Homo sapiens: one gene and its partner. The protein of the gene in region 1 interacts with the protein of each later gene in a pairwise test. Each region holds a gene or a part of one and is shown in the gene's direction. Other genes may lie near its edges.

Region 1 (10,123 bases):
ATTACTTAAAATTGTTAATGACCTTAACACAGGCATTCAGTGCAGTGATGATCTCATAAACTGGGTTTTGTCTCTAGAAATGGATGTAATAAAAAGACAAGGAAAGAGTTTAAGACATTGAAACATTTCTTGAGATCATGGTAGAATGGTATCAGGAATGGTTCTGTTCCCTAAAAGGTCATGTGAAGAGGTGAGCAGCAAGCAGTCATTTAAATGAGCAAATGGAAGGGTACTCAGGAAATATAGAGCAGATATCAAAAATGCCAAGCCAAAAAGGGCTAAATTTAATAAAAACACATCAATCAAGAGTGAATGTGGAAGAAAAGCATTGGGCAAGAGTTGGGAAAGGAGATAGCAGAAGAGTGCACAGAAGGCTACCTGTTATTGATTTTGCCTCATGTGAAATACCTCTCTCTGGAGACTTACTGTTAAGGAACTGGTAGCAAACCCACATATCTGCAAAAGCTAAGTAGTAGGAGAACTGAGCCAGATATAAGTTAAGGGTGAGAACTATGAAAATCTGGATACTTTATGTCCCATCTACAGAGTGCAAAACCTACTAAGCTCTAGTTAATTGTTAACATACAAAAGTGAGGTCCACGTTTCAGGATTTTTCATATAATTCAAGAGAAACCAGAAATCCAAATAGCTTTCTCAAATCTTCCAAATTTCCAAATTTGATAAATACCTAAATAAATTGTAACAACTCAATGCACCAATAAAACCATGTATTTAGATCAGATTCAACCCATAGCTGTCAACTTGTGTTTTTTACTTAATTAAATTAACATGGACCCTAACAGCAATAGTAGATTAAAAAGAAAATGAAGGTACAAGATTAGGGCCAGTGAATGCAGTCTTGTTTCTAGTAAGTTTAATTATAAAGGAAATCTGTGGCCTAAAGACAACAGGGCCTTTATGCAACCAACAGACCCAAATCCTTCTACCAATGTCCAATATTCTCCCCATATTGTGCTTTCTAAAGGTGTCATAAAGTTTATATACAAAATATTAGACATGAAATGTTTCCATATTTCTTATTTTGAGATATCAGTGCCCAGATTACTTTAAATCCTAATGTTGTAAGCGTTTCGGGAGAATCTGAATAGCATACCTTTGTACACTCCTCACCCTGCCATGCATAGCAAGATGCCAGGTGAAGGTAAGTCAGAGAAAACTATCTTCAGGTTCTTCTTAAGGTAAAACAGAACGCTTAGATTTTGATATAAACCCTTAATGCAGAGATTGCAAATTAGGTGTTTGGAACCTGAATCCACTCCAACAGCTGAATCCAATCCAACAGCTTTTTATCATGAACAACTGCATATAGAAAAGTACATGAAATAAAGAGGGTTACCTCCGATAATTTAGCTCAAAGAGAACACCCTTGTAAACACATCCGGGTCAAGAAATAGTGCCAGGTCTCAGAAGCCTCCCCTTTAGTCTTCTCAGAATCACTACTCTTTTCTTCCCTTACAAAGGCAACCTACCTCTTGACATTTATGGTAACTGCATTCTTGCTTTTCTTTATTGTTTTGCTAACATCTCCAAATACTTTGGTATAGTTTGCCTCTTAACTAACTAAATATCAATGAAATTATGTAATAGAACTGCACATTGTGTATTTTTTAGTGGCTAGCTTCTTTTCTTGAGTTTTATTGTTGTGTTTTTAATATTCATATTTATTAATTTTATCCTGAAGGTACACATGGTGTTGGATCAGAAACAGATGATTTACTTAAGAGCAAATAATGACCATGCGGTCCTCTGGATCCCAATTCTTACCCTTGGCACAACACAGTGAAAGCCAGGTCAGATGTCCTAGGCGTACAAACTTTGAAGTCTGTATCACAGATGAGAAACAAGAGAAAAAAATAATTTAGTGTGTTTACATACAGAAGCAAGAGAAAACTATCTTTTCCACCCCTCCCCAAAAGATAGAAAAAAAAAATCTTTGCTCCTTGGATGCAATAATTTTGGGTTCTCTAAATGTTTCAAATATAAATACATTTCTTCAAAGCCAAATGCAGTGAGTAGGTCTAAATTACCTAGTCTATTACTACGGGAAACAAATGTTCCCAATAATTTTTTTTTTCTCTGACTCATTAAGGGTTTAAAATACATTGAATTTTGAATAACAAATTGTGATATCTGACTTTCATTAATGTCTAAATTCACTTAAGACAAAACTCAGGTAGAACAGTTAGGGGATACTGCCCCTTTTGGGAAAGGCACTTGCTCTTAACTTCGGTAATCTTCCCCATCCCTATTGTCTGTATTCAGCCACTTTATTTAAGTAACATGCCTACTTGGCCACTGTAAGCATTCTTATTAAATGGAAACCTTTCTAATTTAATGCTTTTTTTTGTTCCTAGAATCTTGTTCATTAACAAGATCTTCATTCTCTAAATTATGGTCACCTTCATTCTTAGCACCAGTATGGGGTATAGGACCATATTCCTCATGCTATCCCTATTCAATGACTGATCCTCCCTCCAGCCTATTCCAAAAATGTCTTTCTTACTTCTCTAGGACCCAGCCTCTCATAATAATAACTCCACTAATAATCCCTTAATAGTCCACTAATCAGCCCTTATTATTATTACTGAAGAAAAAGAAACTGGAACACATCCTCAGTAATTATTACAAGAGGCTGGTTGTTAAAAGTCCCAGCACTACCCTTGATTTACATGGTAAATTTACTTCTCAGAATTTTTCTTATTTTTCAACTAGTTAACTTAGTGTAGTAACGATTGCTCCTCTCACATGAAACGGAGTATAAGTAAACAGGAAAATGTGAGACATTAAAATTAGAGTAAGACCAAAATCATTATGTAGATTTCTAGATAACATTTTACAACTGTGAATTGTTTTATCAGCATATATTGAGGAACTACTGTTGCCTATGTGTCGCACTATTTCATGCCCACATATAGCTTCAAAGAAATAGAAAGAATATGTTGGTTCTCAAGGAGCTTAAATTTTATCTGGAGAGATCACATAGAAAGCACTATAAAATATACATGAAATACTTTTCTATATCTAAAATAACAGCATAAAAGAAAGCATATTATGCTACTAGAAAGCCAGTTAGAAAGGTAACGATAAGTTGAGGACGTTGAACAAGAAAGGCTTTTGAAAAAGGTTCTTGGGTCAATTTTCAGGAAAGTTTTAGACATAGACTTATGAGAGAGGGGGAAAGTATTCCAGCAAGTGGCAATTTTTGCAGAGCTTTTATTTTCAAGTGCTCAATTGGTTCATCTCTATTTTTTGTCAGCAGACTTTTAAAGGGGATTTTGTGGTGTTGGTTGGAATTGATATATTTTTAATGCTCAAGAATATGTAGACAGTCAAGTATTATTATAGGTAATCATCTCGAGTCTTCAGTTCAGTCTTGACATCTTCCCTCTCAACAGAAATACTGCACTTTCTGCAGGAGGTAAGGTGTTCAGCATGTAGATGCTGACCTTAAGGAGTTTATGATTGATTACCTTAGAGATTTAGGCACCTAAGTGAGAAGTTAAACCACATGCAGTGGCTACCTAGCCATTCCAGAAATGTCGTAAAGCAGTGGATGATAAATATCAAAAACACCAGTACTGACAAGTCCCAGCAAAGTTCACAGGAGGTGTAATCCTTGGAAGAAAAAGGCTTCAGGGAAAAAAAAAAAGTAACTTAAAATCAGTTCAGCCTGGGAATCACAGAGGTCCTCTAATCCAACTAGATGAATCCCTTCTATGAAATCACTAATAAATGGCTCTCCTTTTTTTTTTTAATCCTCACCAGTACCAGAGAATTTGCTTTCATGAGACATCAATTTAAAAGTTTTAGAAATAATGTCCTTCCTTATACAAAGTCTCAAATCAGCCTCCTTCTTAAATTTAATAGTGCTATCCAGAGCTTCTCAGATCAGTGCTTTGGCATCCTCCAGCACTCCAGTGTGTCACAGGTGTGCTGACTTATTTATTTCCTTAGCCCTCCAAGCTGTCCTGCAGAGACTGAAGTACCCACAGCCCCAGAACTATGGCCATGAGAAACCTCCTGTGTTTATCACATTGCCATAAATAGTATCACCTCTTATGTGTACTCTGCTGTAAAAAAGATTGTGAAGCATTGCTCAGTATAATGTGTTGGCAAAGAGATCAAGTCTCTGGAATCACACAGACCCAAGTTAGAACCTTAGCTCTGCCCGATATTAGTTTTCAGGCCTTGGAAAAGAAACTACATCTTTTCAAGCCTCAATTTCTACATTGCAAAATGGGTGCAATAATACTGCCTCCCTTGTGAAGTTGGTGTAAAAATTAAAGATGATAACATAATAGCACTAACAAAAAAGTATTATTGTTATTTGTTCTGCTTTTACCCTTTTAAATATACTATAGAATTCTTCTTCTATTTTTAGAAACTTCAGAATATTTGAAGCTAGTTTATTGTTTCCTCTCAGTATTCTCCTATGGCTAAATAGCCTAAGTTCCTAAGTTTTTCCTCGTCAACATAAATTCAAGTTCCTTCTACATCTTAGTTTCTCTCTTTATTTCTTTTTGCATATGTAGTACTAAGAACTGGATGCATCCCTGTAGATTTGGCTTGACAAACTAGTCCTTGAAGTGTGGATGGAATAGGGCAGTGGAGGAAAGATATTCATGCTGGAGAACCGTGTAGTAAGCAAAGGAGAAGTCATAATACATCTGTCATGTTTATCAACAAATGGGCCTCACTGGCTACAAATATAATCATATGGGGGAAAAAGAATTTTAAAGAGGGAGCATTGTGAACTCCTGTAATCATGTGACTATAGATTCTATCCAATGTAATGAAATACCAACATAATTGTCATTAAAGGAGATAGATCTCTCTTTTGAAAGCAAGCAACCACAGTATTTATGTGAGCTACAAGCACAATGTCATAATACATACTATAATCCCTAATCCCTTTTTTCTTTTTTTCTTTTTTTTTTTTTTGAGACGGAGTCTTGCTTTGTCGCCAGGCTGGAGTGGTGCAGTGGCACGATCTCTGCTCACTGCAACCTCCGCCTCCGGCTTCAAGCGATTCCCCTGCCTCAGCCTCCTGAGTAGCTGGGAGTACAGGCACGCGCCACCACGCCCGGCTAATTTTTTCTATTTTAGTAGAGACGGGGTTTCACCATGTTGGCCAGGATGGTCTCGATTTTCTGACCTCGTGATCTGCCCGCCTCGGCCTCCCAAATTGCTGGCATTACTGGCGTGAGCCATCGTGCCCAGCCCATCCATACTATAATCCTTTTTTGCTCCCCTAGAATTGTCCCAACAGGATGCTGGAAAACTGGAGATTATCTGCAAGCTACACATACCCTGGGCTTTCAGTGGCTGTTGGCTATTGCAGTCCACTCTGGTTGAAAGAGGCTGGTGACACAGTTACCTTGTCCTATCCTAAGAGTCACAACTCAGAAGATTCAACCTTCAGATTTCCTTTATTCCTGAGCCCTTTTATTCTGGCCTTCTGGTCTTTCTTCCATTCATTCCATATAGCATAACGCTTAGAATCTGTTGGTGTTCATCCCCCCCCCCCCACCTCTGCTAAGTATTAGTTGTGTGACATTGGGCAAATTATTCTACTTTGTAACTCAGTTTTGCCTTCTGTTAAAATGAGGATTTTTTTTTACAGTACTTTAACAATAAATTGTGACCATTAAATGAGATAATGTATCTATAGTGCTTAGAAGAGAGCCTGGCAATAATAAGCGCTATTTATGTTAACTGTTATTTTGAGTCATTATTATTCATACATTCAACGAATACCACTGTGCTAAATACAGGGGATGTGTTGGTACATCGGACAATCTCTTACCCCTTATGGTCATATTTCTTCTGATTTTGTGAGACACGCAATGACTTTCGAATCTGACTCCTGGATGCAATTTCAGAAGCTGCTGTTGGTAACTGTGGATGAGGCACTTACCCTCTCTGAGCCTGTTTCCACATCTGTAAAATGAGGATTAATAAAATCTACTTGGAAGATTTGTTTTGACTATTAAAAAGACAAAATATGCAAATTATCTGGCACATTTGAAGTCGAATATACTTTCCTTTTCACAGTCTTGTGGCCACACCTGAGGCTAGGGAACTCCACTCTAGGCTTAGAAAACAGTGCTGTCTTCTTAAGTGCTGGGGAGGAGTAAGAGGGTATGGCGGGAACTCATCTGCAGGAAGGGTAAAACCCAGAAGGCGTGGGAGGAGACAGAGACAGGAGGGATGCAGGGACCGCCCCTGGCCTACAACTCCCGGGATGCTCCGGGAGCGCCCCGCCCCGCCCCACCCCGCCCGCCGTGGCGGGCGCTGCCCACCCGGCGGAGCCGAGCGGCGTGCAGAGGCTACAAGTGCCGTAGCTGGTGATTGGGGGACTTTCTCCGGGAACCGTGCCGGGAGAGCGCGCGGTGCTGGAGCCGCACCGGGTGGCCGAAGCAGAAGGTGAGTGGCGGGGAGTGGGATGGGGTGGAGGCTTTGAATGCAAGGGTGAGAGCCCTGGAGCCTAGCAGAGCTGGAGCGCATATCCCCGCTCTCTCTCCTTCGTCTCCGAGTACTAGGCGGACACATCCGTACCTCGAATGCCTCAGTGGGCGCAGAGTTCACCAGAAATGGATAGCCGGATTCCTCGGCGCCTGCTGGGGGCACCGCTGCCAGGTGCTTGGGGCTCGCTCTCCCGGCTTTGCTCGCACAGGGCGCATCCAGAGGTCGCCTCCCCGAGATCAGCCTTGCCTGTGTCAGTTTAAAGCAAATATTAATGCTTTTAATTGATGACAGATGGACGAGGGAAAGTGCGTGTCCCCTCGCTTTAAGGTGCAATGTCGTTAACTGGGCTTTTAAGCAGATCAGAGGAAAAAGAGGGAGAGGACGGAAGAAAAGAGTCTTTAGCTGGTCCCCTGGGATTATCCATTCTCCACTGAGAATGGAAACCCCGGATTAGGGAGCTGCAAAGGAAATCGACTGTGCTGCTAGCATACCTCCGGTAGAACAAGCGAACAAGCGGGAGTAGCTTTTCTTTAAAGAGAGGTAGAGGCGGCCGTAGGGAATTAAGTGGGGATTTCTCTCTTCTTTTGTTATAAACTGAAAGTCTCAAAGAACCCTGCTGATTTTATCCAAGGTAGGCTAGTGTGATGAGTTAATGGTACCAAAGGTTAATCAGAGCCCCTAATGCCTGAGAAAACTGGAAGAAGAGTTATCGGTAATTGATGAAGCCTGTTACCATCACTTCATTCATTGAGGGATCCTTTAGTGGGGGTTTGTTCTAGTTTAGTAGTGATTCTTTTGCCCTGTTGTTTTTTGCTGTTTTCACTGTAGAGAAACTCCGATAACAGGAGAAAAACGTTTTCTGTTTTGCTTTTTTTGTTTTGTTTTAAACAAACTCTTAGGTGTAGCAGAAAACATGTCAATTCCCTCTCCCATATTTTGAGTTGCCAGGTTGACCTTAGGTGACCCTTGCCTGTGTTTCTGTTACCAGCTTTGGAGCTGTGGATTTTGAATTATAAGAAGCCTCAAGCCGTTGGGTTAAATCAATTATCACCCTGGATTTGGAAGCAAAATAAAAGGAGCCTTTGGTTAAAATCTCTAATGATAGTGGAAAGTGAATTTTTATTCCTTAGAAACATGGCAGAGGCAGAGAAAAGCCGATGGTTTTCTGCTCAAACCAAAGTTCTCTCCCAGAAATGCCCCTTGCTGCAGTCGGGGGTGAGGAGTGACATGTTTATAAAATTACAGAGGTAACCTTGGAAATAGCTTCTCACCTATTTGTCTCCACAGAACTCTTACTCTGTGGGTTTATAGTTTGTCTTTTATTATCAGTTCACTTCTAGATTGGGTTTGTAAAACTATCCAGATGGTCAATTTCTTGTGCATTGTGTGATAGCAAAGCATGCAGAGAGGGAGGAACACAGACCCAGGGAACGGGAGTAGCAGATCCTGCAGCTGGAGCAGGCAGGTGTGTGTGTGGAGGAGTGGGTTGGCCCATTGTATTTTGCAGGGATTGCCGTAAGGTCTGTTGCCTGTATGCTTTGGGGTCCAGAACATGCTTCCCCCATGGAGCAGTGAGGGAATAGGGCTAAGTGGAAGCACAGTGAATAAGCAGCATATGGTCTTGTAAATACAGGGCTGTGTCACTAGGGTCATTGGATGTATGAGGTGTAAGCTTAGCAGAGGTGGCTGATTAAGCTGGCCTTTTTCATCTACTTCAGAGCTATGGAATCAAAATGCTGAGTTCCTGCCCAGCTGATAGGGGTGTATAGTCATTCACTGATGGTGATGCTCCAAAGCTAATCTGTATTAGAATTTGCTCTGAACTAGGGAGAGTGTAAACACTTACAATCTTACTGAATTAACAAGTCTATGCTTCCCCAAGTCCTCCAGAAAATCGGCAGCTCTGCTAAAAAGGGCTCTTGCCTTTCTCATTTGTCTTTTTACAGGAAACTTGCCTTCTCGTTTGAGGGATCCTTTTGCAGGAATGCGCGAGTCCTTGAATAAATTTGGCTTGGTGACGGCAGTATTCTTTCTCAGTAGACACTGCCACTTCCTCCACGCACCTTTCTACCCTGACTTAAGTTTCTCAGTGTTAATCACTATGACAAGTGAGAGCATTTGTCCCTTCCACACTTTCCTGCCACTAGGTATCCCCTCCCTTCTTTTGCCTGTTTGAGGTGGAAAAGGGGCTAAACAGGTGCAGCTGTGAAGGAAATGGGGACCCCAGGAGCAACACTCCTGGAAGTACAACCTTAGCTTCTGTTGGGTTCTTATCTAACTCTGTTGCTATTGGCAGACTTTCCGGAAGCTGCTGGGGGATGTCTGACTAGCTCTCATGGAGCTCCACTACCTTGCTAAGAAGAGCAACCAGGCAGACCTCTGTGATGCCAGGGACTGGAGTTCAAGAGGGCTGCCTGGTGACCAGGCAGATACAGCAGCCACAAGAGCTGCTCTCTGCTGTCAGAAACAGTGTGCATCCACCCCAAGAGCAACCGAGATGGAAGGGTCTAAACTTAGTTCTTCTCCAGCATCCCCCTCCTCCTCTCTGCAAAACAGTACTCTTCAGCCAGATGCCTTTCCACCAGGACTTCTCCACTCAGGGAACAACCAAATAACAGCGGAACGGAAAGTCTGTAACTGCTGCAGCCAGGAATTAGAAACTTCTTTTACCTATGTGGACAAAAACATCAACTTGGAGCAGCGGAACCGGAGCTCGCCATCAGCAAAAGGGCATAATCACCCTGGGGAGCTTGGCTGGGAAAATCCAAATGAGTGGTCCCAAGAGGCTGCCATATCTTTGATATCTGAAGAGGAGGATGATACAAGTTCAGAAGCCACGTCTTCAGGGAAGTCTATAGACTATGGTTTCATCAGCGCCATCTTGTTCTTGGTCACTGGGATCCTGCTCGTGATCATCTCTTACATCGTCCCACGGGAAGTGACTGTGGACCCCAACACTGTGGCAGCCCGGGAGATGGAGCGCCTGGAGAAGGAGAGTGCGAGGCTGGGGGCTCACCTGGACCGCTGTGTGATTGCGGGGCTCTGCCTCCTCACGCTGGGGGGCGTCATCCTGTCCTGCTTGTTAATGATGTCCATGTGGAAGGGGGAGCTCTATCGTCGAAACAGATTTGCCTCTTCCAAAGAGTCTGCAAAACTCTATGGTTCTTTCAACTTCAGGATGAAAACCAGCACGAATGAAAACACTCTGGAACTGTCCTTGGTAGAGGAAGATGCGCTTGCTGTACAGAGTTAATTCTGGTTGTGAATATCTTGAGAGTCTGCCTTGGCATTTTATAATATGAAAAAAGTTAATTTATAAAAATTCACAGTGCAATTTATTTGCCTGGCAAGAAAAGTTTATTTCACAAACCAACAGCCAGTAAGTGTTTTTGTTCTCTATGTGTCTTCTATTTAGAAGAAAAGCCATGTAAGATGTATAAGAAACCACAACCAGCCACACCTATCCTTCTGAAGAGCTGAAGGCTAATTAATCTGTAATGGCCAAGAACTTCTACTTCGATAGAAAAATATTTCTAATGACCCAGTCTACAAATTATTTCTTTTACACAAATATATGATGTTATTCTTTGGACACTAGGTGGTCCTACACACAGTAGGATCAATTGCTAATCTA
Region 2 (6,220 bases), on another chromosome or scaffold:
ATTCTCAGTAAACTATCGCAAGAACAAAAAACCAAACACCGCATATTCTCACTCATAGGTGGGAATTGAACAATGAGATCACATGGACACAGGAAGGGGAATATCACACTCTGGGGACTGTGGTGGGGTCGGGGGAGGGGGGAGGGATGGCATTGGGAGATATACCTAATGCTGGATGACACGTTGGTGGGTGCAGCGCACCAGCATGGCACATGTATACATATGTAACTAACCTGCACAATGTGCACATGTACCCTAAAACTTAAAGTATAATAAAAAAAAAAAAAACGAAAAAAAAAAACAAAGTTGAACTCATAGAAGCAGAAGGTAGAATGATGAATACCAGAGGCTGGGGGCCGATGGGGCATAGATGAGGCAAAAAGGTGTTGATCAAAGGCCATACAGTTTTCGTTAGACAGGAGGAGTAAGCTTTAGGGATCAATTACGTAGACTGGGGACTATAATAACTAATCATGCACTGGATATTCCAAAACTACCAAAAGAGTTGATTTTAAATGTTTTCATCACAAAGAAAAGTAGTAAGTATATGAGGTTATGAATTTGTTAATTAGCCTGATTTAATCATTCCACCCTGTAAACATATCAAAACATCACATTGTACCCCATAAATATATCTGCAATGATTATGTCAATTAAAAATAAAATTTTAAGAAATAAAAATAAAAAAAAAAATTGCAGGGACAGTACAGAAATTTTTTTCCCTGAATTATTTGAAGGTAAGTTGCCAGCCTGGTGTCCCATCTATCCTATGAGAGGCAGAATTTTAAGATAATCCCTATGACTTTCACTTCCTGGGGTTACTCCTATCACTATGTTACATGACACAGCAAAAAGGAAATTATCTGGGTAGGCCTAATCTAAGCCCCTAAGCTCTTTAAAAGGAGAAAGTTTTATCTGGCTGATGGCAGAAAGGGAAGTCAGAGAGATTTGAATCATGATAAGGGTTGAATGCATCTCCATTGCTGGCCTTGAAGGTGGAGGGGGCCACATGCAAGGACCAGAAAGAAGCCTCTAGGAGCTGAGAGCAGCTGCCTGTCAAAAACCAGCAAAGAAATGGAGCCATCAGTTCTACAACTGCAAGGAACTGAGTTCTGCAAACAACCTGAATGATCTTAGAAGGGGATTCTTCTCCTGGCCCTCCAGATAATAGCCCAGGACAGCCAACAACTTGATTTCAGTCTTGGGAGACCCTAAGCAGAAAACCAGCTGAGGCTACCCAGAATACTGACTTGCAGAACTATGAGTTAATAAATGAGTGTTGTTTCAAAAAAAAAAAAAAAAAAATTTAGTAAAGTAAATATGTTTGAAGAATTATAAGATGGCAACAATGATTCATCAAATAAAAGTCAATAAAAGAGACAGAAATTATGAAAAACCCAATGGAGGTTCTAGAGTTTAAAAATACAAGAACTGAAATGAAAAACCACTAGAGGAACTCAAGAACAGAGGTGAGCTGACAAAAAACAAAATAAACAGACATAAAGAGAGCAAAAAAGATATTGCCCAGTCCGAAGAACAGGAAAAAAAGAAAATGAAGAAAACTGTACAGAACCTCAAAATCCTTTGAGATACCATCACATGTATAATGGGAGTCCCATAAAAATGGGGAGTACCAGAAAAAAAATTAAAGAAATAATGGCTCCCAAATTCCCCTAATTTCATGGAAAACATTCAATACATCCAAAAAGCTCAAGGATCTTCAAGTAAAATAAACACAAAGAGATCCTCCTAGACACCTCCATGTCAAACTGATAAAAAAGAAAATCTTGAAAGCAGCAAAAAAAAATAAAAACAAGACTCTTCATATATAAGGGAACCACAATAATATAAACAGCTGGGTTCTCATCCAAAACAATGGAGGCCTGAAGGTAGTGGAATGGGATATTAAAGTGCAGGGGGAAAAACAGTCAGGCAGGAATTCTTTATCCTTTAAAACTATCCCTCAAAAATGAAGGTGAAATACAGACATACACAGATGAATAATGTGTTGCTAGCAGAAATTCCTCATGAGAAACACTAAAGGAAGTTCTTTAGACTGAAGTGACATCAGATGAAACTCAAATGCACATGAATAAATAAAAAAAGTGCCAGTAAAAGTAATTATGTAGGTGGTTATGAAAATCAGTATAAATACATCTTTTGTGTTTTCTTCTGTTAACTGATTTAAAAGACAGTAGCATTAATTGCATTGGGCTCACCCAGGTAATCCAGGATGATTACCTTAATTTAAGGTCGTGTTATTAGTAACATTAATTCCATCTGTCATAACTACTCAGCTCCACCTTTTAGCATGAAAGTATTCATAGACAATACATAAAGGAATGGATATGGCTTGTTCCAGCAAAACTTTATTTGCAAAAACGGGAGTGGGCTAGATTTGGTCCATGTATCATAGCTTGCCAACCCTTCTTCAATAGACAGTTTCTCAATTTTTCTCTTAAATTTTAAAAGATAAGATTATAAAAGCAGTAATTATAACACCATATTGGTAGTTACATAATATATATAGATAGAATAGATGACAATAATAGCACAAAGAAAAGGAAAGGGAATGAGTTATATGGGAATAAAGTTGCTGTATTTTACTGGAATTGAATTAGCATTCATCTGAAGTAGACTGTGATAAATTAGGGTGCTTATTTAGTGATTAAGCAAGCTAAAAATATAATAGCTTAAAAACAAGGGAATTAACATACACAAAGTATGTTTAATTTTTAAAAAATAAAGAAAGAACACAATGGCCAGGCTTGGTTGGTTAACACCCATATTCCCAGCATTTTGGGAGGCCAACTCGGGAAGACCATATGAGCCCAGGAGTTCAAGACCAGCCTGGGCAACATGACGAGACCTCATCTCTACAAAAAAGTAAAAATAAAAACACTAGCTATGCATAGTGCCACATGCCTGTGGTCCCAGCTACTTAGGCAGCTGAGGTGGGAGGATCACTTGGAACCCAGGAGGTCAAGGCTGCAATGAGCCATATTCAGGCCACCGTACCCCAGTGTGGGTGACAGAGTAAAACCCTATCTCACAAAAAAAAAAAAAAAGGAAAGGAAAAGAAAACACATGAGACGTGTATAAAACAAATAATAAAATGTCAGATATAAATCTATTCATTGTAATAATAACATTAAAATGACAGAGATATTTTAAAGTACCTACTGGAATGACTGAATTTCAAACTATTGACAATGCCAACTGATAGCAAAGATTGTAGATAAAAGAAATATCTCTCAAACTCCTAGTTGAAATATAAGTTATTGCAACAATTTTTAAAACCTTTTGGGCATTACCTACTAAAAATTAAAATGTGCATACCCTATGATCAGTAATTTAAGTCTTTGGTATATAACCAACAGAAATGTTTGCGCTTATGCATTAAGATAAACTTCCAGGAATATATAGAGAGCAGTATTATTCATAGTAGTCCCAAAGTGGAAACAACACAGGTGGGTGAGTGATGAATAAGTTGAGGTGTATTACTTCATTCAAATTTGACATGGTGATTAAAAGCAACTATACCTGCACTTAACATCATGGATGGATCTTACAAATAAAATGTTGAGTATAAAAACTCAAAAGAATGCATACTTGTAAAAAAATCCATTCATATGAAGTTTGAAACCAGGTAAAACTAAAGCTAACCTATAGTGTTTAGGGATGAAGCTTAGTTCATGAAACTAGAAAAAAAATTGACCTTATCTAAAAGTCAAAATGACCATTACCTTGAAGGGAAGGAATAGGTAATGGTTGAGAAATGTCATGAGAGGCTAGGGTGCTGGCATCTATTAAGATTTATGTTCAAGAAGACTATGGTTATTTTTATTATAAAAGTTTGAAGGTACACCAAAAGATACAAGTGATCCAACAGAAATTAAGAAAGTAGGTTGAAGGCTGGGCATGGTGGCTCACACCTGTAATCATAACACTTTGGGAGTCTGAAGCAGGAGGATCACTTGAGGCCAGGAGTTCAAGATCAGCTTGGTCAACATGGTGAAACCCCGTCTCTACTAAAAATACAAAAAAATTAGCCAGGCATGGTGGCACAGGCCTGTAATCCTAACTACTCGGGTGGCTGGGGCATGAGAATCTCTTGAGTCTGAACCTGAAAGAGAGGTGGTTGCAGTGAGCCGAGATCGCACCACTGCACTCCAGCCTGGGCGACATGACCTTGAAAACAGAACAAGACCTTGAAAAAAAAAAAAAACCCAAGGAAGGAAGGAATGTAGGAAGGAAAAAGAGAGAGAGAGAAAGAAAGAAGAAAGGGAAGAAAGGGAGGAAGGGAGGAAGGAAAGAAAGAAAGGAAGGAAGGAAGGAGAAAGAAAAAGAGAAAGAAAGAAAGAAAAAGGAAAGAAAGAAAGAGAAAGAAAGAAGAAAGGGAGGAAGGGAGGAAGGGAAGAAAGAAAGAAAGAGAAAGAGAAAGAAAGGAAGAAAGAAATAAGGTTGAAATAGGAATGGGACAGAAATAGGATACTTTAAGATTTCACTCTATAAATATCAGTATTACCTGTATTTTTTAAGAAAAAGATCTATTTATTAGTTGTATAATATTAAGAAACATGATATGATTTGTAAGAGGTTACTTTTTTTCCAGTTTCGAAGACAAAATGATCTTACATCTGTTACTGAGGAAGCTGAGAGCACTCCTTAAAAACCCTAGAAATATGAGAATTTTGCTGTTGCTGATGCCTGGTGTGGGTCCTAATGATATCTCTGTATAACAAAGCAGTTACGAAGCCTACAGATTTTGTGCAAAATAAAATACAAACAAGGTGAATTTTTCTCCTCATTCAAAAATGTCTCTGCTTATATTTTTCTAGGCTGCAAGGAAAGTTTTTCCCTATTTAAATATGAGATTATTACAGGATGAATGTGTTATCTAGGTACGCTGAATAGCTGTCAACTCTCCATAATAAAGCTTTTGTAAGAGACTGTAAAAAAGATTCATTATTATCTCTAGAGTGAAGGCTATAAAGACTTGGGCCATGATGTCGTATAATTCACAGGAAAACTTTAAATACTTATGTCCATACAAGCAGAAAGCACATTTTACAGTCTGAGTTCTTCTACTTTAACTAGCTTCTATCAAAGTATGAATCAAAAGGCCTCTAATTCATATTTCCTTCATTGTTCTTTGACTTCTCTTCTCCTTATTTAAAGTTCCTTTCTGCCCTGAACATATCTGCTATCTTTCTTATCTTTCTTTCCCCTTGCTTCTTTCTTCTTATCATTGTTTGGATCACCTGTTCAACTGCTTTTCAAAGCAGACAGACTGTCCACAATAAGGAGAATTTTCTAGAAATCGGTTCTGAATTCAATTCACCCTCTCTTCTAATATGGAATATTACTTCAGAAAGATGTTTCACTAATTGTTATCTAACACTGCAAACTAAGGTTACTTGATTCTAAGAATTTCAGCACTTATCTCATTTTTTTTCAGATTGTCTACTGTATGCCAATGAATAATATCTTAAGCTCTGGAGTATCAACAATTAATAAGGTACCTGATGACAAGGAGACTTATTTTAGGGGAGGAAACAAACAGCTACCAAGTTAAGACTATGTATGACATATAAACAGAGTATAAAAAAGTAGAAATAAGACAGAAGAAATAATCCTTCAGATGTGAAATAAGAGTAATAAAGCTTTATGAAAGACCCCTGAGCAGGGGATTAGTAGTTTACCAAACAGAAAGGTAGGAAGACATTTTGAATAGAAGACTTTAGGTTATTAGAAATGTGGGAGAGATCACAGCTAAAATAAATATATTAAAATTTAATGACAGGGAGGAGGAAGTCAAGAATGAAAGCTGGAGAGATCGGGGGAGGCCAGATAATAAAGAAGTCAAATCATCAAAGAGTTAATACTAAAGTATTGAACTAAATCTTGCAGACAGTAAGAGGCCATTGGCAAGTAGTTCAACAGGAAAATTATAGGCTTGGATTTACATTGAAAAAAGTATGAAATATGGGAAAATGCATTAGAAAGTATAAATTTGATTAAAGCAACTAGATTGTGGGAGGGAAAAATGGATAATTATTGTAGTGATTCAGAGAAGCAGTGAAAAGTGGTAAGTTTTAGCCTGACTGGCTGATTAAACATGAAGTGTGAAGGAATCTAAAATAATCCCCTAGTTTCTGGATTAGATAAAACCTACAGTGATATAAAGCATATAAGACATAACAGAATTGGAAAAAAT

Evidence for each region. The genes of interacting proteins can lie anywhere in the genome.
Region 2: the proteins of TMEM74 (region 1) and MS4A13 interact in binary tests that used the Homo sapiens proteins (3 or more experiments, as listed by UniProt).

The regions. Positions count from the first base shown.
Region 1 is NC_000008.11:108,783,800-108,793,922, reverse strand, and holds the start of TMEM74 (transmembrane protein 74), read left to right. Parts: upstream 1-6,328; 5' UTR 6,329-6,447; intron 6,448-8,785; 5' UTR 8,786-8,824; coding exon 8,825-9,742; 3' UTR 9,743-10,123. UniProt on the Homo sapiens protein: Plays an essential role in autophagy. TMEM74-induced autophagy may involve PI3K signal transduction.
Region 2 is NC_000011.10:60,537,904-60,544,123, forward strand, and holds the end of MS4A13 (membrane-spanning 4-domains subfamily A member 13), read left to right. Parts: intron 1-4,615; coding exon 4,616-4,672; 3' UTR 4,673-4,818; downstream 4,819-6,220. UniProt on the Homo sapiens protein: May be involved in signal transduction as a component of a multimeric receptor complex.